Linked DNA regions of Homo sapiens: all the other regions are reported to be linked to region 4. Evidence: microRNA targets listed by miRTarBase, many of them from high-throughput screens and not tested one by one. Region 4 holds a microRNA gene; each other region holds the end of a gene's coding sequence.

What was found. Region 4 holds the annotated microRNA hsa-miR-513a-3p (UAAAUUUCACCUUUCUGAGAAGG, at 1,758-1,780, shown strand). A microRNA usually pairs through its seed, bases 2 to 8, with sites in the 3' UTR of a target mRNA and lowers its output. Matches are read on the target gene's strand: a 7mer-m8 pairs with bases 2 to 8, a 7mer-A1 pairs with bases 2 to 7 and ends in A, and an 8mer does both.
Region 1: miRTarBase lists MCFD2 as a target of hsa-miR-513a-3p. Seed matches in the 3' UTR shown: 7mer-m8 at 2,121-2,127.
Region 2: miRTarBase lists HOXC11 as a target of hsa-miR-513a-3p. Seed matches in the 3' UTR shown: 7mer-m8 at 3,338-3,344, 7mer-m8 at 3,219-3,225, 7mer-m8 at 2,875-2,881 and 7mer-A1 at 2,484-2,490.
Region 3: miRTarBase lists CACNG6 as a target of hsa-miR-513a-3p. Seed matches in the 3' UTR shown: 8mer at 3,014-3,021.
Region 5: miRTarBase lists MRPS18C as a target of hsa-miR-513a-3p. Seed matches in the 3' UTR shown: 7mer-A1 at 2,981-2,987 and 7mer-A1 at 2,954-2,960.
Region 6: miRTarBase lists C16orf87 as a target of hsa-miR-513a-3p. Seed matches in the 3' UTR shown: 7mer-A1 at 2,953-2,959, 7mer-A1 at 3,448-3,454, 7mer-A1 at 3,473-3,479 and 7mer-A1 at 3,724-3,730.

Annotation. Positions count from the first base shown.
Region 1 is chr2:46,901,760-46,905,845 of GRCh38, reverse strand. MCFD2 (multiple coagulation factor deficiency 2, ER cargo receptor complex subunit) reads left to right here. Exons shown (of 4, transcript NM_139279.6): 4 at 252-3,972. The coding sequence ends at 383. All of the region lies in intron 1 of MCFD2-AS1 (MCFD2 antisense RNA 1), which reads right to left. Among named protein-coding and RNA genes, the nearest start is that of MCFD2-AS1, 4.5 kb to the right of the region's middle.
Region 2 is chr12:53,975,176-53,979,255 of GRCh38, reverse strand. It overlaps HOXC11 (homeobox C11), which reads right to left. Exons shown (of 2, transcript NM_014212.4): 2 at 1,613-4,075. The coding sequence ends at 3,843. Among named protein-coding and RNA genes, the nearest start is that of HOTAIR, 2.3 kb to the right of the region's middle. RefSeq lists enhancers at 1-340, 3,830-3,979.
Region 3 is chr19:54,011,590-54,015,678 of GRCh38, reverse strand. It overlaps CACNG6 (calcium voltage-gated channel auxiliary subunit gamma 6), which reads right to left. Exons shown (of 4, transcript NM_145814.2): 4 at 3,013-3,728. The coding sequence ends at 3,490. Among named protein-coding and RNA genes, the nearest start is that of CACNG6, 22 kb to the right of the region's middle.
Region 4 is chrX:147,211,189-147,215,277 of GRCh38, reverse strand. MIR513A1 (microRNA 513a-1) reads left to right here and starts at 1,687; the gene lies at 1,687-1,815. The region is part of intron 1 of LOC105373347 (periphilin-1); the gene reads right to left.
Region 5 is chr4:83,460,796-83,464,868 of GRCh38, reverse strand. MRPS18C (mitochondrial ribosomal protein S18C) reads right to left here. Exons shown (of 6, transcript NM_016067.4): 5 at 3,837-3,896; 6 at 2,571-3,748. The coding sequence ends at 3,672. ABRAXAS1 (abraxas 1, BRCA1 A complex subunit) reads left to right here. Exons shown (of 9, transcript NM_139076.3): 8 at 1,261-1,375; 9 at 1,967-4,073. The coding sequence ends at 2,400. Among named protein-coding and RNA genes, the nearest start is that of MRPS18C, 6.8 kb to the right of the region's middle.
Region 6 is chr16:46,799,623-46,803,711 of GRCh38, reverse strand. It overlaps C16orf87 (chromosome 16 open reading frame 87), which reads left to right. Exons shown (of 4, transcript NM_001001436.4): 4 at 642-4,089. The coding sequence ends at 760. Among named protein-coding and RNA genes, the nearest start is that of C16orf87, 30 kb to the left of the region's middle.

The DNA.
Region 1 (4,086 bases), not on the chromosome of region 4:
GGATTATGATAAATTGACTCAATAATACATATTCTCTCTCTATATATCTAGATTCCTAGAAGTAGCCCCATACTCCATTGAAAGTTTTTGGACACATATGAGCGTGGATATTTTGTTGTTTTGTTTTTCCTTTTTTTTTTTTTTTTTTTTAATAAACAGTGCCATGAAAGAACATGGATATTTTGGACGTTAGTTAAGCACTTCTTCCGGTAAAATGCGCAACTCATCATTGTCTAATTTGTATTTTGTAGGAAGGGAGTGAACAGGCACCACTAATGAGTGAAGATGAACTGATTAACATAATAGATGGTGTTTTGAGAGATGATGACAAGAACAATGATGGATACATTGACTATGCTGAATTTGCAAAATCACTGCAGTAGATGTTATTTGGCCATCTCCTGGTTATATACAAATGTGACCCGTGATAATGTGATTGAACACTTTAGTAATGCAAAATAACTCATTTCCAACTACTGCTGCAGCATTTTGGTAAAAACCTGTAGCGATTCGTTACACTGGGGTGAGAAGAGATAAGAGAAATGAAAGAGAAGAGAAATGGGACATCTAATAGTCCCTAAGTGCTATTAAATACCTTATTGGACAAGGGCTTGCTTCAAGCATCTGTATTAGTCTGTATTAATGCTGCTGATAAAGACGTACCCGAGACTGGGAAGAAAAAGAGGTTTACTTGGACTTACAGTTCCACATGGCTGGGGAGGCCTCAGAATCATGGCGGGAGGTGAAAGGCACTTCTTACATGGCAGCAAGAGAAAATGAGGAAGAAGCAAAAGTGGAAACCCCTGATAAGCCATCAGATCTTGTGAAACTTATTCACTATCACAAGAATAGCATGGGAAAGACTGGCCCCCATGATTCAATTACCTCCCCTTGGGTCTCTCCCACAACACGTGGGAATTCTGGTAGATACAATTTCAAGTTGAGATTTGGGTGGGGACATAGCCAAACCATATCATTCTACCCCTGGCCCCTCCAAATCTCATGTCCTCACTATTCAAAACCAATCATGCCTTCCTAACAGTCCCCCAAAGTCTTAACTCTTTTCAGCATTAACGCAAAAATCCACAGTCCAAAGTCTCATCTGAGACAAGGCAAGTCCCTTCCACCTATGAGCCTGTAAAATCAAAAGCAAGCTAGTTACTTCCTAGATACCAACAGGGGTACAGGTATTGATTAAAGACGGCTGTTCCAAATGGGAGAAATTGGCCAAAATAAAGGGGTTACAGGGCCCATGCAAGTCCGAAATCCAGCAGGGCTGTCAAATTTTAAAGTTCCAGAATAATCTCCTTTGACTCCAGGTCTCACATCCAGGTCATACTGATGCAAGAAGTGGGTTCCCATGGTCTTGGGCAGCTCTGCCCCTGTGGCTTTGTAGGGTACAGCCTCCCTCCTGGCTGCTTTCACGGCTGTTGTTCAGTGCCTGCGGCTTTTCCAGGTGCACGGTGCAAGCTGTTGGTGGATCTACCATTCTGGGGTCTGGAGGACGGTGGCCCTCTTCTCACAGCTCCACTAGGCAGTGCCCCAGTAGGGACTCTGTGTGGGGGCTCCCACACCACATTTCCCTTCTGCACTGCCCTAGCAGAGGTTCTCTCCCCTGCCGCTGAGAGGGCCTCTCCCCTGCAGCAAACGTTTGCCTGGGCATTGAGGCATTTCCATACATCTTCTGAAAACTAGGCGGAGGTTTCCAAATCTCAATTCTTGACTTCTGTGCACCTGCAGGCTTAACAGCACATAGAAGCTGCCAAGGCTTGGGGCTTCCACTCTGAAGCCACAGCCCGAGCTGTATGTTGGCCCCTTTCAGCCATGGCTGGAGTGGCTGGGACACAAGACACCAAGTCCCTAGGCTGCACACACATGTCAGGGGCTGCCCTGACATGGCCTGGAGACATTTTCCCCATGGTGTTGGGGATTAACATTAGGCTCCTTGCTACTTATGCAAATTTCTGCAGCTGGCTTGAATTTCTCCCCAGAAAATGGGTTTTTCTTTTCTATTGCATAGTCAGGCTGCAAATTTCCAAACTTTTATGCTTTGCTTCCCTTATTTATAAGGGAATGCCTTTAAAAGCACCCAAGTCACCTGTTGAACACTTTGCTGCTTAGAAATTTCTTCCGCTAGTTAACCTAAATCATCTCTCTCAAGTTCAAAGTTCCACAAATCCCTATGGAAGGGGCAAAATGCTGCCAGTCTCTTTGCTAAAACATAACAAGAGTCACCTTTACTCCAGTTCCCAACAAGTTCCTCATCTTCATCTGAGGCCACCTCAGCCTGGACTTTGTTGTCCATATTGCTATCAGCATTTGGGGCAAAGCCATTCAACAAGTCTGTAGGAAGTTCCAAACTTTCCCACATTTTCCTGTTTTCTTCTGAGCCCTCCAAACTGTTCCAGCCTCTGCCTGTTACCCAGTTCCAAAGTCACTTCCACATTTTGGGTATTTCTTCAGCAGGTCCCAATCTACTGGTACCAATTTACTGTATTAGTCCGTTTTCACGCTGCTGATAAAGACATACCCGAGACTGGGAAGAAAAAGTGGTTTAATTGGACTTAAAGTTCCACATGGCTGGGGAGGCCTCAGAATCATGGTGGGAGGCAAAAGACACTTCTTACATTGTGGCAAGAAAAAATGAGGAAGAAGCAAAAGCAGAAACCCCTGATAAACTGATCAGATCTCATGAGACTTATTCACTGTCACGAGAATAGCACGGGAAAGACTGGCCCCCATGATTCAATTACCTCCCCCTGGGTCTGTCCCACAACACGTGGGAATTCTGGGAGATACAATTCAAGTTGAGATTTGTGGGGGGACACAACCAAACCATATCAGCATCCTTTCAAGAATATTAGATAATTGGAGCTGAGTACTCAGGAACTTGACTGTAGTAGAATACTGCTAGTTTCTTAATTTTAATTCACATCACCTGAAAAGTAAAACAACAGGCTTTGCCAAGTGGATGCTTTTCAGTAACAGTGAAGTGGAGTGAATACCAAATGTTTGCCCTGGTGGTTCCTATCTCTTCAGGCAAACATGGTCAGTATTCTGTAAAGTTCCCCTGGCCTAAATGATTACTTGCTCTGGGCAAGTGGATATTTATTAGGCTATTTCAAAGCCACAGCATAAGAATGTCAGCCTAGCCACAGAGTCTGAGATTCTGAGTTCAGCCTAGCCACAGAGTCTAAGATTCTGTATCCTCTGACATTTTGGAAATGATACACTACTGGCTTAAGTGATGACTCTTTCAGATTTTCAGTATTTTATACAACTACTGCCACATCCTTATACTTTATTGCTTTTCTGTCTTCTTCAACCTGGGAGAGACCCTGAATTTGAGTGTGTTCTCTAATCAATAGTGGTTTAGCTTTCTTTTCTATTTCACTCGTTTCTAGGGTTTTTTATTTGCAGTTTAGGAACTATTAGGAATGTCAGGACTTTATCAGCAGGGGTAAAACTACCACCTGGCCTAGCCTAAGTAGGAAGTGAAAAGATAATTCACCAAACAATGATTAATCAGATAGAAGTTCTAGTCAAGAGGGATATTGTTGAAGTTACCTCTTTTAGCCTAGATACATGGATTCTTTTCAAATCAGGAAAGATTAGAAAAGGAACCCAAAAAACCCTTTAACAGTGTGAATCTTTATAGTATTTGAAAATGAGAAGAAGCAGCAGATTGTAATTTGGTTTATTGGATGTGATGGACGTTCTGTAATAGAAAACCTGAAACGATGATTGAATGGGAAAAAGAGACTACAAAATTTGTCGTAGGATGTATACAGACTTATTTTCTTTATTACAGTATTATAAGAAAACATATGTATTTGTAAAAATGGTTTCCTGTGTCAAGTATTTGTGCAGTCAGAGCTGACTTGTAAACTATTCTTGTAATAGCTCATTATTTTGAAAGATTTATATATGATGAATTCTGGATATATGACCAATAAAACTGATGAAGCAAAACCTCGAGCAGTTGATTTTGTTCACATCAGCTTCTCCTGCCACATGCAGGGTGTGTTTACTACAAATGTTCACATGTGCCTGCTCTTATCATAGTTCCTGTGACTATCTTCGGCT
Region 2 (4,080 bases), not on the chromosome of region 4:
TTGCCTTTTCCAAAGGTTTATATGAATAATAAAGAGTGCAGTCGCGTGCACTGGTTCTGGCGGGCTCTCAGTAGGGAGGGGTTAGCAAACAGCATTATCCAACCCTGGGGCACCAGAAAACCCCAGTAGCTCCCCCCTTCAGGGAATACTGGCCCAGAAACAATTGCCCTACGGATTCCTGAGAGAGGCGGGGAAAGCGAAGGGGTGGTGCCCTTGACTCCCTTGAAGTTCAAAGTTCTTCTTTACTCTTAAGAGAAGAGCCCTTTCTGCTCTCAGCCCACTCGAGAAATTAGCCCAAGGTAGTTTCTCCCCTTCTGGTTGAGAACTGGCTCTAGGTATTCCCAACTCTGTTCACCTTTCAGACACCTGGTTTGCACCTTTTGCTCCCCCAGAACAGGGCTCCCCAATCTTTCCATCTGGGACAACTAGAGCCAGGGAGTTTTCTCTCAGAGGTGCTTGGCAGGGGTTTCGAGTCTTCTTACAAGGGGCCCTTGCATCGCCATTCCTCAGCCACCTAAGAGTCTAAGTGACAAAGAAACCCCAAACTCAAGGCTACTCCTAAACCCATTTCTCATTTCGAGTGCCCTTGATTCCTCCTGCACCCCAAAGCCCATGGTGGAAGGGGGAGGGGCCCAGAGTGCTCTCTCAGCCCACACCACTTAATACCCTTGTAAACTCCCACGTGCACTATAAACTTGGATTTTTACAACCAGCATTCCTCCTTAGCTCCGGGAAACTTTGAACTCGGCCTCAGGTTTATTTACTGGGGCGGGGGGGTGGGGTGGGCGCGGCGGGGAGGAAAGGGGCTGGGGTGCTGGGAGCTGAGAAAGGCTGGAGAAAAGAGGAAAAATGTGGGGCAACGGGCTGAGGAGGTGGGGGTCTGAGTGTGTTGGGAGAGCCAAGACCCTCCACTACAGGTTTGTTTACTATTTAGGGCGGAAGTGGTTTCTAATACAGGCCAGACTGGGTCGTTAAGGTCGAAATGAAACTGGGTTTAGAAACGTGAGGGGGTGCTTTATGGCAGCGTCTAGACGAGGATCTTTTGTTCCCGGGCAGTGCTGCGGCTAGAGGGGATTACCCCAAGAGGTTGAGCCCAGAGTGCCCCTGACCTGCAAGGGGGGTTGGACACCTTGGGAGACGGAAGGTGGGTTTGTTTGGGGGCCAAAAAACCCTTTTTCCTCCTTTTTAGAGGGTCACCAAGGACTGGCAGATTCCTGGCTTGGGTCACAGAAGCCTTTGTTTTTCTTTCATGATGACCTTCTCCTCTCATCCACCAGAACTCTCTTTTGGAGCTGAGGACATTTCTGGGCTCCACATTGCAGAGAAAGTGTTACCTGCGGGTTTTAAATATTTTTCTCCAAAATCAGGCATTTGGAGGCTAATATTTTGCTTTATAAATAGGTTCACCTTATAGAGTTTCCTCTATCCTAATTTCACAGGAAACATCACCAGCAGGCTAATATTTCCTAATGTGGCTAGTGGATAAACATCATACCTAGAGAAGTGTCACACACACATACACACACAAAAATGTACAGAGGCCCCTCAGTTGCATTCCTGCCCACACTCAACAAACACTGCCAATGGTTACACACCACAGAGACACAAGCTCTAGATGTGTATGTGGTCAGGTTTACTCCATGCAACAGACAAAAGCATATAAATAATATTCCTTCTTATGTGCACCCATAGGCACACCGAGTTAAATAAAACGTTTGTGTGTGGGCACATGAGGGAATTGTGGGCTGCATATACACCCTAGTTTGCAAATCTTGTCTCACGACCCGACCCACGTTTACAAATTAGAAATTTAGATACCTAAGCTGCAGGGATTCCTACCATCAAAAATGACAGAACCTAGATTTGATAGTCATGATGCTTTTTCCTTTCATCCAACAGAATTGTATTGACAAAAATATTTTCTTTGAATTATACAAAGACAGAAAGAGGAGGGAAAGATGAGATGAGTTGTCCTGAACCTCTGCCCCCAAATAACGAATTTGAAACAGAGACCAACGAAGTGCCCTCACTGAAAGCACTGCAAGGGCCATGATTATCTTTATACAGAAGAAACATGCAGCAAATATAGATGGGTATGGTGACTGTCCCCGCAGGTCATCTCCATCCCCAGTGCCAACCCCTACAAAACAAACCTCTGGGGCTTTCTACTGTGGGACACCCAATGTATAAACATCAGGGTGGCCCCAGTATAGGCGTCTTGTTGTGTCTGGAAGAGCCTGGCCATTTGTGCCAGAGGGAAAGCAGCCAGGCCCCACCTTCCCACCCCCAGGAGCTGTGGAGAGGAGAGGGAGGGGGCTGGTTTCTCCTTCTGTCCCCTCCTTCCTTAAAAACAGTGTATAAAAATTCCAATACAGATTTCTCCTAGAGAAAAAAAAAAAAAAGCCCTAACCTCCACACTACACATTTAACTGCGACAGACGGAGACATCTGGCAGAAGGGCGGTGGAGCCAAAAAAATTCCTATAAATTTAAATTCGATGATGGTTACAATTAACTCCACAACAAACGTGTACTTAAACAGAAAGCCGTTGCTGGGCGTTTGGACACAGCTCGAGCTGCACGTGAGAAAGGAGAGCTTCAGAGTAGCTATGGAATGTCCTCAGCTTGAGAATGTGAGGAGACTACGGCCATACTCTTGGCCCTGCCAGCGGAGAGGAGCTCCAGGCCGGCTAGCACCGGCCTATCTCACCTCTGCCTGCCTGTCCTCACCCGCTGGGCTCTGCCTGCCTGCCTCCTCCTCCTCCGCCGCTGCCATGGGAGCATGGAGGATTTTAAGAGGAGAGGGGTTAATAAAAGGGTCAAATAAAATCATAATATTGAACAGAATGAAATTTATCTTTATTTGCCACCAAAAAAATTTCACAGCAATCCCTCTGGGAAGGGAGCAGGGTGGGGAGTGCACATGTACACACGCACTCACGCAGAGGAGTAGAGATGCGTGATTTGAATCTCACTGGGGGCGTCCCCCCCTTTCCCTCCAGGTGGAAAGAAACGCTTGGGAAATTTATTTACAAAAATCCAGGCCCCAGCACGGGGGAGGTGCCCAATCCCATCTCCCTACTGCCTCCACCACCCCAATCTTCAATTTTCTTAAAAAAAAAAAAAAAAGAGGTAACGACTGCATAGACTATAGCTATAAATCCATGAAGTGGGGCACTGCTTGGAAAAAGATGTGGAAACCTCAATGCACCGATTAAGAAATTTCAAAGGAAGGTTCTACACATTCAGGGGGAGAACAACTAGGCTCGGGCGGGGCCTTGGCGAAGACGGAGGTAGGACACGGACTTTGCACACCTAACACCAGGTTGAAGGTACAGAAATTTCACAGCAAGGCAGGATCACATTTAGCTGCAAGGTGGGGCGGGGTAGAGGGGGGAGCTCGAGAAGTTTCCGCTGGCAGACATGCTGTCTTAGCGGATCTTTTCACATGGGCAAGGGAAGGCTTTTAGTTCGAGGATTGTTCGGCTCAGGCGCTCACTACTGTCGCCCCTCCCCCACCTAATCCGAGCAGCAAGACATTGTCGCCGAGGTGTGTTTTCTTTTAAATCAAAGTCTTGGCCTCGGCGCCAACGGTGTTCACTCGCCGTGCATCAGACACTTCCCTTCACCCCCTTTCCAGGCCCGGTCCCTGTCCCACAGCGAGAGTCAGATAGAGGGTCCAGGAGGTTCCGGAATGGAGTGCCGGCCACAGCGGTGGGGGCCAGCCCTGGCCACAGTCCAGTTTTCCACCGGCGGAAAGAAGACGAGTTAGAAAATAAAAAATAAAAATAAAATAAAATAATTTTCCCCTCCCCCCGCCCCCAAAAGGGCCCGGTCTGCAGGTTACAGCAGAGGATTTCCCGAGAAATACTGCAGCCGGTCTCTGCTCAGTTTCTTTTCTTTCATCCTTCTGTTCTGAAACCAAATTTTCACTTGTCGGTCCGTCAGGTTCAGCATCCGGGACAGCTGCAGCCGCTTCTCTTTGTTGATATACACGTTGAAGAAAAACTCTCGCTCCAGTTCCCGGATCTGGAATTTCGAATAAGGGCAGCGCTTCTTGCGGGTGCGGGGGGCGTCTGGA
Region 3 (4,089 bases), not on the chromosome of region 4:
GGCTAACAAGGTGAAACCCCGTCTGTACTAAAAAAAAATACAAAAAAATTAGCCAGGCTTGGTGGCGGGCGCCTGTAGTCCCAGCTACTCGGGAGGCTGAGGCAGGAGAATGGCGTGAACCTGGGAGGTGGAGCTTGCAGTGAGCCGAGATTGCACCACCGAGCTCCAGCCTGGGTGACAGAGCGAGACTTCGGCTCAAAAAAAAAAAAAGAAAAAGAAAGAAGGAAAGAAAGAAAGAGAGAGAGAGAGAGAAGAAAGAAAGAAAGAGGAAGAAAGAAAAGAAGGAAGGAAGGAAGGAAGGAAGGAAGGAAGGAAGGAAGGAAGGAAGGAAGGAAGGAAGGAAGGGCCATTCCCCCAAGACCAACTATCTCCGCCACCCCCATGGCAGATGTCTCTTGAGGCTTCCCTGACCTGGCTGGGCACAAAGTCAAACAACAAAAAAAAAATTGTGGACTCTCTTGTCTCCTAGCACTTAACTTGGTTTATAATTGCACGCTCATTACTTCAGTGATGTGATTAGTATCTGTTTCCATCAGCAGGCTGTCAGCTCGTCGTCGGGGGTCCCTGTTTACTCTGTAAGTGCCACTTGAGAAAAACTAACAGCAAAGGCAGATCGAGTTGCGACCACGTGCCAGGCGGTCTCCTGGGAGCTTTGCAGGGCTCATGATGGCGTTTACTCCCGACGGTGACTCCTGGGAGTAGGTACAGGATTGAGCTCACGCACCGTCTTTAGGGATGAAGGAACGAAGACAGAGAGAGGTGAAGCTGTTGCCCCAGCCATAGGTCGGGGAGCTGGGCTTTCACACCAGCCTGGCTCCCAGGTGCCCAGGCACTGCGGGGCACTTCTGCTTGTTGAATGGAAGAATGCAGAATTAGAAACAAAAATCGCATGGTCAGCTGGGCGCGGTGGCTCACGCCTGTAACCCCAGCACTTTGGGAGGCGGAGGTGGGACGATCACTTGAGGTCAGGCGTTCAAGACCAGCCAGGCCAACGTGGTGACACCCCATCTGTGCTAAAAATACAAAAATTAGCTGGGTCTGGTGGCGCACACCTGTAATCCCAGGTACTGGGGTGGCTGAGGCACAAGAATTGCTTGAACCCGGGAGGCGGAGGTTGCCGTGAGCCGAGATCGCACCACTGCCCTCCAGCCTGGGCGACAGAGTGAGACTGCAAAATAAAAATAAAAATAAAATCACATGATCATCTCAATAGATGCAGAAAAAGCATTTTGATATGGGAGGGGGGCAGAGAACTGCTGGGTAGAGAAGGGCAGGGTCTCTGGCAAGGGCTCTACCCTAGGGCCTGTGCCCATGGACCTAAATTAGAACAGGCATTTCCGAAGGTGCTGGGATTACAGATGTGAGCCACCACACCCAGCTAATTTTTGTATGTTTTGTTGTTGTTGATTTGTTTTGTTTGTTTGTTTGTTTTTAGTAGAGACAGGGTTTCACCATGTTGGCCAGGCAGATCTCGAACTCCTGACCTCAGGTGATCCACCCGCCTCGACCTCCCAAGGTGCTGGAGTTACAGGCATGAGCCGTCGCGTGGGGCCAAGACTCACCCTTTTCTTAACACCTGGCAACCACTAGTCTGTCTTCCGGGTCTGCAATTTAGTGACTTCAAGAATAAGAAACCTTGTTTCAACCCCTTGACCTGATGCCAGTGTGTCTCTGCTCAGCAAGCTCCCATGGCTCCTCAGTACCCTCAGGGTAAAGGCCAAGCTGTTCTGTTGAGCATCTGAGTCTCTCCACCTTGTTCATAAGACAGCCCACCCCAACCCTCTCACGTTTCCTGTGTCTCACTCTGAACACCAGCGTTCACATTTCCTCACTCACAGGTTCATCATGTTTTTCCTCTTGTTTCTGTCCAGGCTCTCCCACCCAGCTGGAACGCCCGTGACGTTCTCCACTTTCTCTGATTCTTACTCACCTTGAAGACTCAAGTTCGTCATCTTCTTCGGAAGGCTTTCCTGAACCAATCCCCCTTCCCCCCACCTTTTTGATTTTTTTTTTTTTTTTTTTTTTTTTTGAGACGGAGTCTTGCTCTGTCACCCAGGCTGGAGTGCAGTGGCGAGATCCCGGCTCACTGCAACCTCCAACTCCCAGGTTCAAGCAATTCTCCTGACTCAGCCTCCCGAGTAGCTGGGATTACAGGTGCCTGCCACCACACCCAGCTAATTTTTGTATTTTTAGTAGAGACGGGGGTTCACCGTGTTGGCCAGGCTGGTCTTGAACTCCTGACCTCAGGTGATCCACCCGCCTTGGCATCCCAAAGTGCTGGGATTACAGGCGTGAGCCGCCACACCCGACCAGAAAACACAATTTAGAATATATACACTGTTAATGGTTGAATGTTCTCCCCTACAAAATGTATATATATATATATATGTTGGACCCTAACCCCCAGTACCTAAGAATGTGACCTCATTTGGAGATACGGTCTTTACAGAGATAATCAAGTTAAAATAAGGTCATTGGGGGTAAATCCTAATCACGTATGACAGGAGTCATGTGTAAAGGGGAAATCTGGGTGGGGTACGGTGGCTCACGCCTGTAATCCCAGCACTTTGGGAGGCTGAGACAGGTGGATCACTTGAGATCAGGAGTTCGAGACCAGCCTGGTTAACATGGTAAAACCCCGTCTCTTCTAAAAAAAAAAAAAAAATACAAAAATTAGCTGGGCATGGTGGCTCGTGCCTGTAAACGCAGCTACTTGCGAGGCTGAGGCAGGAGAATCACTTGAGCCCAGGAGGCGGAGGTTGCGGTGAGCCAAGATTGCAGCACTACACTCCAGCCTGGGAGACAGAGCAAGACTCCGTCTCAAAATAAAAATAAAAATAAAAAATATATTGTGTTTTCCACACTCTCAACCATTGTGTATGGGTTCGTTTTCATGTGACTTCTGGGCTTAAAAGTGTTTCTGGAGGGTATGTTTCTGGAGGGAATATGGGGTCACTTTTCTTTACCCCAGAATGCACGATCACATCACAAATAGACTCCAAAGCAAAGTTGTTAAATTTCCAAACCTTTAATCCCAAATCAGATCACAGCGAGGCCAGACCCTTCGCTATCTCCCCCAACCGCACCCGGAGCTGCAGATGAGTTGTAAAAAGTCTCTCCCGGCAAGTGAATCGATCCAGACCTGGGAAATGAAGGGGCCCCCAACTCCCACCCAAGACCCCCTGACCTCATCCCCCAACCCCACACCCCAGCTACCCCATCAGGTCCCCGCCAGTCTTCTCTGGGGACCCTCGTTTGCAAAGAGCCTCTTCCCATCCCACCCCCAAGCAACCCACATACAGCCACAGAGAAAAACGTATTTACAGAGGGAGAAAGGATAAGGGGACAGGAGGCAGGCGTGTAAAAAAACATGGGCCCCCGAGCAGGGAGAACACAGTTTCTCTAGGAGATGGGGCAAAAAGATCTTGGGGGTACAATGGAGAAGGTCAAAGGGCTCGGTGGTTGCTTAGAGAAGTCTCACGCGTGGCTCTAGGTGGCCCGGTGCCCCCGCTTGGGACAGAGGGACCCCCAGGGCCAGGAAGGCAGTGTGAGCAGCAGAAAGCAGCCGGCCCCCAACAGCAGGATCAGGCCGGCCCCCACGCCGCAGCCCAGGGACCAGGAGTACTCGTAGGTGAGGCGTGGGGCCGGGGGAGGCTCCGGGCTGACTCTCTGCAGCAGGGCCCTCACGGAATGCCGGAACACCTCCAGGCTCACCAAGAGCAGCAGGCCTGCGGGAGAGAGGACAGCTCGCAGTCAGACGCCCGCGACCCCAGCTGTGTCTGAACATCTCCGCCATCCGCTCCCAGCCCTCCCGCCCACCCTGGCACCTTCCCACGCGTGCACTCAACAAATACTTACTAAACACCTACTATATAGCAGGCAGCATTTGGGAAGCTGGAGATAAAGAAAAAAAAAAACAAGACACAAAGTCATAGAGACAGAAAGTAGAAGGATGGTTGCCGAGGGCCGGAGGGAAGAGGAAAAAGGGGAGTTGGTGTTTAACAGGTATAGAATTTCAGCTGGGGAAGACGCAAATCGTTCTGAAGGTGGATGGGGGTGATAGTTGCATAACAATGTGAACGGAATTGA
Region 4 (4,089 bases):
GATGAAGTACAGAAAACAACTAGAAAGCCAGTAGATTTAAACGCATGTACATAAATAATTATAATAAATGATATAAATGCTTCAATTAAGAGAGACACTGTCAAATTATGTAAAAATAAGAAACAGCTGTACACTTTCTAAAACGAAACCATTTTAAATATGAAGACCTACGTGAAAGTTGGGTAAAAGGATGGAAAATATATTAATGCAAACAGTAAATATTAAAGCTAAAAAATCCTAGCACTATTAATTGTTAATCACACAGCGAGAGAGAGAGACTGAGCCCAAATAAATGTACTATAAAGAACCATGGAACTAAGAAAAATTAAATAGCATTTCTTGTCTTCCAGCCCATTATCTGTCTTGTCTGTCTCTCGTATTAATTTCTATGGGTTCTTCCCACTGCATAGCCTGAAGAAGAAATTAAATTTCTGCTCTCTCCAACCTGGTACTGTCTGACTCTTCTCTAGTAGTTTGGATCCAGGTGGTTGTATTCTGTGGTTTTTCCATTGGAATTAGGGTCTGTGCAGCACAGCTGGAGTTTTAGGACCATAGAGAGCTTTGGTGAGTGGTTGGCCCTGCCTACTTAACTGTAATTTTAAAAGTTTTTGGGGTTTTTTTGTTTGTTTGTTGTTTTTTTTTTGAGACAGGGTCTCACTCTGTAACCCGGGCTGGAGTATATTGGCACTATCTCCGCTCACTGCAACCTCTGCCTCCCAGGTTCAAGTGATCCTCCTGAGTAGCTGTGATTACAGGCGCGAGCCACCACACCCCGCTAAGTTTGTATTATTAGTAGAGATGGTGTTTGACCATGTTGGCCAGGGTGGTCTCAAACTCCTGGCCTTAAGTGATATGCACACCTGGACCACCCAAAGTACTGGGATTACAGGCATGAGCCACCATGCCCGGCCGACTCTGAAGATTTTTTTTTTTTTTTTTTAGATGGATTTTCACTTTTGTTGCCCAGGCTGGAGCACAACGGCACAACCTCGGCTCACTGCAACCTCTGTCTCCTGGGTTCAAATGATTCTCCTGCCTCAGCATCCAGATTAGCTGGGGTTACAGTCACCCACCACCACACCCGGCTGATTTTTTGTATTTGTAGTTGAGATGGAGTTTCACCACGTTGTCCAGGCTGGTCTCAAACTCCTGACCTCAGATGATCTACCAGCCTTGGCCTACCAAAGTGCTGGGATAACAGGCATGAGCCACTGTGCCTGGCCTGATTTTGAGGATTTTTAATGAGACAAGCAAATTAACGTGAAAACTAATGGGATAATTCAGACAAGGATTACTCGCCTTTGGGGAAGAGATGAAGTGAAAAGCTCTATTCTTGATCAGTCTAAAAATCTGCGTGTTAATTAGCCATTCGAGGTGGTGTGTGCCTTTAACCTAAGCTACTCGGGAGGCTGAGGCAGGAGAAGTGCTTGAACCCAGGAAGCGGAGGTTGCAGTGAGCTGAGATCACGCCAATGCATGCCAGACTGGGTGACAGAGCCAGACTTCATCTGAAAACAAAAACAAAACAAAAATCTGCATGTCAAAATCTCACTCGGGGCAGGATGAAAAGGGGAGTGCTGGGGGTTACAAGTTGCATTGTCCCTTGGCATAAATCTTGGTGGCCATGCGAAGGCATACACCTATAGGGACTTGAATAAAAACAGCATGAAAAGGGAGCATTTGGTCTGGGATGCCACATTCAGCCATTCAGCGTACAGTGCCTTTCACAGGGAGGTGTCATTTATGTGAACTAAAATATAAATTTCACCTTTCTGAGAAGGGTAATGTACAGCATGCACTGCATATGTGGTGTCCCTGAGGATGGGGGTGTAGCTGCGAGCATGGTGATGCCTGTTTTGCATCCTGTGCACCCACTCCTCAGTGCTGGGCTACACTTCAAGGAACTTTTTGTGCCTTCTAGACGACTGTACATAGGAATTGTGGACTCCTGAGAAAACGCATGCACTTAGGTTCCTTAAGAATTTATTTTTGCCAAATGAGGCTTGGCTCAAATAGGAAATACATTGGATAGAGGCCACAGCCATTCTTCGTCAGCTGGAATGCTTTACTCCAGATTCCTAAATTCTCTAAACTTTTTTCACTTATCAACTAGTCATCATTTGCAAGGATTCTCCTTTAGCGCTCCCAAAAGACTCTCCTGCCTCTCAGGTCCCTTCATTGCTGATCCACAGCGTCCATTTTCTGTCAAAGACTAAAACATTTTCTCATTGACTTTTAAAATACCTTTCAAAGCCTTAAGTCACCAATTTATGAAGGATTAAGCATAGTCCACCCAAGAATATTTCACTCTTTTTCATTATCTTTTTTCCCCGTTTTTTAAGAATATGTATGAACAATGGAAGGGTATGATGGAATTGATACTCAAGAGATATCTCCTAGTCTTCTCTCCCCATTTTCTTTGTGTGTGTGTGTGTGTGACAGAGTCTTGCTCTTTCGCCCAGGCTGGAGTGCAGCGGTGTGATCTGGGCTCACTGCAACCTCTATCTATCTCCCAGGTTCAAGGGATTCTCCTTCCTCAGCCTCCCGAGTAGTTGGGATTACAGGTGTGCCCCAACACACCTGGCTACTTTTTGTATTTTTAGTAGAGATGGGGTTTCACCATGTTGATGAGGCTGGTCTCGAACTGCTGACCTCCTGATCCACCCACCTAAGCCTCCCAAATGGCTGAGATCACAGGCGTGAGCCACCACGCCTGGTCCCATTTTCTTGTGTTGACACTTCTTAACTCTTAACCTAATGGAGAGAGATAGAGGGAAATACACACACACACAAACACACAAAAAAAGAGAGAGAGGGCAAAAGAGTAAGACAAGTGCCGGATGGTGTGAGGCCATCTGCAGCATGAAACTAGTATGCATTTTTGAGAAGTAGGTTATAAATAAGCTACTTATATTGCAGAAATGTGTTAAAAATGTTATAAATAGTAAGTTATTAATACAAATTTGATTCCAATGGAAATAGAGGTTATAGCATATACATCAAAAGGGAGAAAGTATAAAAAACAATTACTATATGGTTACAGGCAGGATTTTAGTTTGTTTTGTTACGTTCAGAATGGATGAATATGTTTAAGACCATTAATGTCTGGAAGTAAAAAAACAATCAGTTGAAGTATCTTTTTCAATATTAAAACAATTGCTCTAATAGATTACATAGCATCTTTTTCATTGGGGGCGGGGGAACATTCTGAACAGTAAAAAAATTCTGTCAGTTGGAAATGCTGTATGTACATAGAAATTTCCAAAGTGATAACACTTTTTAGTATATAATTTCTAAAACTGTATTATAGTGAATGCATGTGTACTTATATAATTTTAAGTCATATCCTAAAACGAAAGAAGAGAATTTAGTTAGTATCATATCTCTTTTATGATTTCTCAAAAGAGTACTCTATTCACTGTTATTTGTGGTTTTTCTTTCAGTGAAATACTTTTTTGTATCATTCATCCGTGTTTCTACCAATTTATTAAGGTTTAACTGACATAACTTTTGTATATATTTAAGGTGTACAACATGATGTTTGGATATATGTATATATTATACAATGATTAAATCCACCTAATTAAAACATAAAATAATATAAACATAACATATTTAGGTGAAACTCTAAATACAAATTATAGGATCTCTGTGGTATGCAGAATAACAGTCCCCCTCCAAAAGATGTTTACAGAGCAACCCCTGAACTCAAAAACATCACATTTTATGGTAGAAGGAAATTTGCAGATATGACTAAATATTTTGAGATTGGGATTATCCTAGATTATCTAGGTGAGTCCAACATAATCACAAGGGTTCTTATAAGTAGAAGGAAGGTGGTTAGAATAAGAGAAACATTGGAAAATGCTACAGTATTCAATAGAGGTGGAGGTAAAGTCCATGAGCCAAAGAATGATCTTCTAAAGACAATCAAGTAGATTCTCCTCTGGAGCCAACAGAAGGAACAAAGCCCTGCCAATGCCTTCATTTTAGCTGAGATAAACCTAATTTAGATTTCTGACCTTTAGACTCTAATATATTTGTGTTGTGTAAACAACTAAATTTGTGGCAGTTTGTTACAGTTATCAAT
Region 5 (4,073 bases), not on the chromosome of region 4:
GAATGCCATAGAACTTTCTGTGTCTGCACATTGCTATCCTTCCAGACCTTTTTGTTTCTTCATCCACTGGCAGGCCAGAAAACAGCCAACCCACAGCTCCTGCATTTAGATCTCTTCTAGAGCATAAGATCTGCCAATTGGCTATGTAATACCTCCAGATTGCCAGGCAAGAATCTCATTGGTTCTGTTTGGGTCAGCTCTGGTGAAAGGTGGGTACAGGGGTAACTGGCAAACTCTTATGTCAGGGCAAAAAAAGTTTGTAAAAAGTAGGCTTGGCAGACATCCTAAAAAGTGTCCACTAAAACTGGCAAAACAACTATTACCCTACAGTTGGAAATTAGTTGCTTTTTTTACTAATTAGTTGTTCTCCCCTCCCCCAGTTGTTTTATGTTATACTAAGAAACATCATCTTATATTTTTGTTGTTATTCAGATATATTCCCAAATGGAATTATGGCATCAAAAGTTACTGGTATTCATACTTTTAAAACTAAAGACACACAGAAGTGATCTGCTTTTCAAAAGTAGTTTCTCTTACAGGAAAAAATCTTCAATAGTATCCTTTCGTAATAGTAAGATAGTCACTTTGTTTCACTTACTGTGAGTTTCTTAGTGTTAAATTTATGCAGTAACTCTGCATCTGTATTTTTTTTGTTTCAAAGTTTTTTTGTTTGTTTTTGTTTGAGACAGGGTCTCACTCTGTCGCCCAGGCTGGAGTGCAGTGGTGCAATTTTGGCTCACTGCAACCTCTGCTTCCTGGGTTCAAGCGATTCACCTGCCTCAGTCTCCTGAGTAGCTGGGACTACAGGCATGCATCACCACACCTGGATAATTTTTTATATTTTTAGTAGAGACAGGGTTTCACCATGTTGCCCAGGCTGGTCTCGAACTCCTGAGCTCAGGTAGTCTACCCACCTCAGCCTCCCAAAGTGCTGGGATTACAGGCGTGAGCCACCGCAGCTGGCCCATGAGTTAATATTTCAGTTTATTTCTGTATATTTTCAGCGAACTAACTGGCATGATAAAAGCTGTATAAATGAGAAGTTACATGTGAAAAAGCATTTTACAACCTATAAGGCTTATTTATAACCTACAAGTGCTTGTTACTGACATCCTCCAGAAAATAAATAAAATTTATATAAAAGGCAAATAGTTTTGGGTATTATATACCACCAATGATTTTATATTATTTGTGAATCTAGACTGTATTAGTACACAGCTTGAAATATTACCTATGCCCTTAAATTACTTTATTTTGCAGAGTATATGCAAAAAAGTGGAAGACAGTGAACAAGCAGTAGATAAACTAGTAAAGGATGTAAACAGATTAAAACGAGAAATTGAGAAAAGGAGAGGAGCACAGATTCAGGCAGCAAGTAAGTAAACAACACATCTCTACTTTCTGTGCTAAAAATTTTTATTTATTTATTTATTTTTGAGACGGAGTCTCGCTCTGTCGCCTAGGTTGGAGTGCAAAGGTGTGATCTCAGCTTACTGCAACCTCTGCCTCCTGGGGTCAAGCGATTCTCCTGCCTCAGCCTCCTGAAACGCTGGGATTCCAGGTGCCTGCCACCATGCCTGGCTAATTTTTTTTGTATTTTTAATAGAGACAGGGTTTCACCATGTTGGCCAGGCTGGTCTTGAACTTCTGACCTCAAGTGATCCACCCGCCTCAGCCTCCCAAAGTGCTGGGATTATAGGTGTGAGCCACTGCGCTCGGCCCTTTCTGTGCTTTTAAAGAACATAATACTATGGTAGCTATATTGCTGACATGAAAGAACACAACTTTAATTTTGTCTTAGAATACTGTGGCATATAAATTAGAATTCAGAATTATGTATGTTATCCTCACTTTAGATAATACAACTGTTAAAATCTTTTTGACTTAATTTTACTTACAAATAGTTAATTATAAAAGCTTTGTAGAAGAAATGTTATATGTTGAACTGTTATTCTATTTTGTTTAGGAGAGAAGAACATCCAAAAAGACCCTCAGGAGAACATTTTTCTTTGTCAGGCATTACGGACCTTTTTTCCAAATTCTGAATTTCTTCATTCATGTGTTATGTCTTTAAAAAATAGACATGTTTCTAAAAGTAGCTGTAACTACAACCACCATCTCGATGTAGTAGACAATCTGACCTTAATGGTAGAACACACTGACATTCCTGAAGCTAGTCCAGCTAGTACACCACAAATCATTAAGCATAAAGCCTTAGACTTAGATGACAGATGGCAATTCAAGAGATCTCGGTTGTTAGATACACAAGACAAACGATCTAAAGCAGATACTGGTAGTAGTAACCAAGATAAAGCATCCAAAATGAGCAGCCCAGAAACAGATGAAGAAATTGAAAAGATGAAGGGTTTTGGTGAATATTCACGGTCTCCTACATTTTGATCCTTTTAACCTTACAAGGAGATTTTTTTATTTGGCTGATGGGTAAAGCCAAACATTTCTATTGTTTTTACTATGTTGAGCTACTTGCAGTAAGTTCATTTGTTTTTACTATGTTCACCTGTTTGCAGTAATACACAGATAACTCTTAGTGCATTTACTTCACAAAGTACTTTTTCAAACATCAGATGCTTTTATTTCCAAACCTTTTTTTCACCTTTCACTAAGTTGTTGAGGGGAAGGCTTACACAGACACATTCTTTAGAATTGGAAAAGTGAGACCAGGCACAGTGGCTCACACCTGTAATCCCAGCACTTAGGGAAGACAAGTCAGGAGGATTGATTGAAGTTAGGAGTTAGAGACCAGCCTGGGCAACGTATTGAGACCATGTCTATTAAAAAATAAAATGGAAAAGCAAGAATAGCCTTATTTTCAAAATATGGAAAGAAATTTATATGAAAATTTATCTGAGTCATTAAAATTCTCCTTAAGTGATACTTTTTTAGAAGTACATTATGGCTAGAGTTGCCAGATAAAATGCTGGATATCATGCAATAAATTTGCAAAACATCATCTAAAATTTAAATTTGTCCTACATTTGTACTTGCTAAATCTGGCAGCCTTAATTATTACACAACTATAACACAACACAAACAGTAATCTCTCCCCTAGTTTAGAGTCCTTTGCATGAAATTTAGCAAATCTATCATTTTGAATACAGTACAAGCCTGGTAATCCAGTGTATTTGGGATAGGCCAGTGGAACTCAGAACTGATACATATATACATGTATGTCTATCATATTCAATGTCTATTAGGTGTAAATCATCTCTTCATGTAAAAGACACTACTGGTTTGAGGGTAGACTCGTCTAGGAATATTTTGTCCTTCTGTGACAGCACCACTATCCATCCCAATGTAACATTTCTACAAAGGGAAGATATCTTAACCAGGCATACTTATATTTGCTAGTTGGAAAATCATTCTGAACAGTTTTAATTCCATTCTATTGAATGGATTATTGTATGAGCTATTTGGGGATCAGATATAAATGACAATCACACAGAACCACTTTTATTCAACATAGATAAAATGTGATGAGTGTTAACATTTTAAATAAGCAATCTGCTTAATGGACATTGGTATGAAGGGGAAGTGTCATTCTTTACCTCACTCCTCAAACACTTTTCTATCCAAAGGTTGGTTTGAGTCAGTATTGGCATCATACAACCACTTACTGTAAAATAAGTTTATTAGTGGTAACGTGATAGAATTTATTCCCGATATCTGATGTTACAAACTTTAGGGTCCTTGAGATATGCAGGATCCTTGTATGTAACTGGCATAAACCCTGTAAAGAGATAATTAAAGTTCTTGACAAAACATAATGAGCAAAATTTCAGCTAGCTCAATTCAGTTGTTGAGGTATTCTTTCTTACCCATTATTTGAGCTCTCTTAATTGCTTTTGTGATTTCTTTCTGTTTCTTCCCACAAAGACCTGTAAAATAAAAAGCTTTCTTATTCATAAAAAATGTCAATATTTAAAGTTTGCAATTTTTTTTTTTGAGATGGAGTCTCCCTGTGTCACCCAGGCTGGAGTACAGTGGTGCTCTCTCGCCTCACTGCAACCTCCGCCACCCAGGCTCAATCGATTATCTTGCCTCAGCCTCCTTAG
Region 6 (4,089 bases), not on the chromosome of region 4:
TAAAAATGATTTGATTGTAAATTATATGCATTTAACTTTGATTAGACTGTCAAAACAAAATAAACAAAAATAGAATCAGGGGATCCTGAAAAAGTAACTTGGAAGAATATACACCAAGATGTTAATTGTGATTTTTGCTGACTCATGAGATTACGAGTGATTTTTATTTTCTTTTTCAAATTTTCTGTGAACTTGGATTACATTTGTAATCGAGAGGGGAAAAATAAAAATAAATGTCATTTCCTGTATAAGAAGATGAAGATGAATATGTTAATGTATTCATAAAGTCACCATTGATGTTCAGAAGGGGACCATCTCTCAGAGTGAATTTCGTCTAGCAGAGAAAATTCATTTTGATTGAGACAGTGAGGAGATAGAAATGTATGAGATTCTTAGAAAAATTATGTAGCTGTTAGAGTGCCTGTGTATAGAAATAAATATTGTCTTCATTTAATCTTCATTTCAGTAACTCCTTTGTATAATTTAAAAAACTTTTTAGTTCAGTAGCATAGTAACATTTAATGTATATTGTAGTATTATATATAATACTGTCATTTAAAGAAATACTTGAAAGCTTTAAAAAATTTAAATTTACTGCATCTACTGCCTTTATATTAAACTTTCCCTTTTTCTTTTAACAGAGAAACAGGAAAAGGAAATTGACATCTATGCTAACCTGTCTGATGAAAAGGCTTTCGTGTTTTCAGTCGCCTTGGCAGAAATAAATAGAAAAATTATCAATCAAAGACTTATTCTCTGATACTTGTTTGCAAAATCTGCTGAAACTTCTGTCAGGATAACATCAGCAAATTCTCAAACAGTTATGGACTCTCAGGAGCATTCTGACTGCATCAATAAGGGCCATCGATTGTTTCTTTCTCGCCTGTCGTTTAGCCTGTGCCACACTTCGGGAGCAAAGCTGTGTAGGCTTGGACTGTTCTGGGATTTCCTTGTTTACCAAGGAGTATTGTCAGTGTTTTGTGTTTGGGATATAAGTAAGTGTATTTGCCAACAACAAAAAAAAACCAACAAAAATGCTGGATGGATGTTAAAGGATAAAAAGTGATGGGGTATGGGGTAGGTATGAAAACTAGGGTAATAAGATGCTTGATTGTTTTCAGGTTTGCCACCAGAGATGCAATATTTTAAATACTGTCAGAAAGAGTGATTTTTAAAAATATATATTTCAGATTTTCAGTGCTAACAGATTGCATATATACAGTTCATTTACTTTTATTAAATTGGCAATCGATATTTTATTGAATGGGGAATTAAGAATATAAACTGTAAATTTTGTCTTAAATTGATTTTTTTTCTTGGCCTTTATTTTTATTACTTAAGGTATGAGTTATATTTTAGGAGATACTTTCTAGACAGTTTGAAGTTTGGGTGCTATATGAAGAAAAACATTTAATGATATACTCAGATATAAACACCTTGTTTTCTTGAATGTAATTTATTTATTAGCTAAAAAAAAAAAACAAACTGCTCTCAAGATGGTGCCTGTTAACCTAAACATGAAATATATTTATTACATGCAAAATATTTCTTAGCCACTTTTAAGCAGTAATGTTTTATCTGAATGGATATTTGTTTCTATATCCTGATAATTATTTAAATTGTTACTTTCAATCTGGAAGAAAAAATAAACCTTAATATTGAAACTAAGTAGATTAAATAGTGTGATAAAAGTTTTTTGTTCTGGTGAAGTTTGTGAAATATATTTAAATTCTTAATTTTTCTAGTGTTAAGTCATAATCGTTTATAGTTGATTTATATTAAATGCTTTTGCATTTTGGCATATCAATTTAATGATTAACATATTCAAACTTGGTAATCACTCCCCTTATTTTCAGTCGCTCTTCCCCCAATCTGTTTAGAAATCCTTTTAAAGCCTTCTTACAGAAGATAGTCATCAGTTAGATTTAGCCCCCTTTTAAGAGAATCTCCCTTTCAATTTTAGCCGTAACATTATCAATTTCAGACTTCATCCTGCATCTCCCATCACCTCCTCAAAGAAAAAAGGTCAACATTTTTTCCTACTTTATTTAAATGGTAACCAGCAGAGGGAGCTTAAGAGGTACTCTAGATAGGATAAAGAATTTTCCTAAGGATTCCTTTTCCTTTAATCCCTGTATCTATCTGCAGGTACTACTGCAACTATTTTGTATGCATTTTATTTATTTATTTAGGAGACAGAGTCTTGCTCGGTCGCCCAGGCTGGAGTGCAGTGGCACTGTCTCAGCTCACTGCAACCTCTGCCTCCTGGGTTCAAGTGATTCTTATGCCTCAGCCTCCTGAGTAGCTGTGACTAGAGGCGTGCGCCACCACGCCTGGCTGTTTTTTTTTTTGTATTTTTTAGTACAGATGGGGTCTCAGCATGTTGGCCAGGCTGGTCTCAAATTCCTGGCCTTAGGTGATCTGCCCGCCTTGGCCTCCCAAAGTGCTGGGATTACAGGCATGAGCCACTGCACTCAGCCTTGTGTGCGTTTTAGAGTCTTAACTAGTAGTTTCCCCAATAATGTAATGTGATTTTATCTTTGAAACATACTGTAAGGAAACTTTTGATTTTAAGTAAAAAAGCTTAAAAATGATTAATATCTAAAAATGCTTGTATACATATATATGTCCTCAGAAAAAGCAAGAACAGCTTGTGGAATAAGCACGTCTTTAAGGAATTATCGATGTCAGAGTCTATCCATTTAAAGCTGAAGACCATTACAGGAAAGTCATGTTAAAATATTCATTGGATATGGTAAAGGAGGTACTGGTGGCTGGGCTGGAGCTTGCCGTATAGAAAAGTAATTACTTCAGATCTCATAATGTTAAATTATTGGCTTATTTAAAAATTTCCGTGGCAGAGAGGCAAATTAGGTTTCCTCTGTGACATAACCTATTTAACCAATTTTTCAAAAAATTGTACTCTATGAGCTTTCTTGTTATAAAGCTAAAAAATTTAATTTGTCTAGGCATGTTGTAATGGTCCCAGAAAATATTACTTTGTCACTGGTGTCAGAGAAACCTCTGTCATCAGCAGATGTCCTAAGAGTATAATTATAGTTCTTTACTTAATCCAAAATTTGTTCTGCTCTGATATCTATAAATGATATGATTATTCAAAATACCTTGAAATGATTCCACAATTAGATTAGGTCTGTTGAAGATAACTTATTCTTAAATATGAGTAAGATTAAATAAAAGTAGTTTGAGAGTTGTTACTCCCTGCCTCAACTCCATGGTATTCCAAAATGTTTTTGTGGGCACTTTAATACTTGTAGTTTGATTTTGTTTGTTAGTTTTAGAAATGAACATTTCTTAGATTTTCATGGGTATTTTTTGGCTGTATTTAAATGTAAATGATATAAAAGTAAGGGAAATTGTGCAAATTATTTCTTGTGTAGTAATCAGTGGAAGTGATCAAACAGCTTGAAGCAGTTTATGATGAGAAAATTTAAAATTGCAAATGACCTGAAAATTTAGCCAGTCTATTCTTATTTCTTTAAATTTCAGAAATACTTAAGAAAAAAAAAAAAAAGGTCAGTATGACCTCTGAGTTGCTTCCTAAAAGTAATCAGATAGTGTTCTCCCTCAGATAAGATTTCAAATTGAAAAGTATTTGACTTCTTTAACTCTAGTAATTGCACTTGATTCTCTAATTCTGATCATTAAAATGACTTGGCAATATTTAATTTTGGCTTGCCTTTCAATCTGCATGTTTGTCTTAAATTTAGAAAAATTAAGCTCTTTACTTACTTTTATATAAAGTATTAATTGGCCAGGCATGGTGGCTTACACCTGTAATCCCAACACTTTGGGAGGCCAAGGCAGGAGAGTTGTTTGAAGCCAGGAGTTTGAGACCAGCCTGGGCAACATGATGAGACCGCGTCTCTACAAAAAGTAAAATTAGCTGGGTGTGGTGCTTCCAGCTACTAGGCAGCTGAGGCTAAAGGATCACTTGAGCCCAGGAGTTCGAGGCTGCAGTGAGTGATGATCTTGCCACTGCACTCCAGCCTGGGAGGCAGAGCAAGAAACACCCTGTGTGAAAAAAGTATTGAATTTGTTTGATTCCACTTTCAAAATATGCTCTAG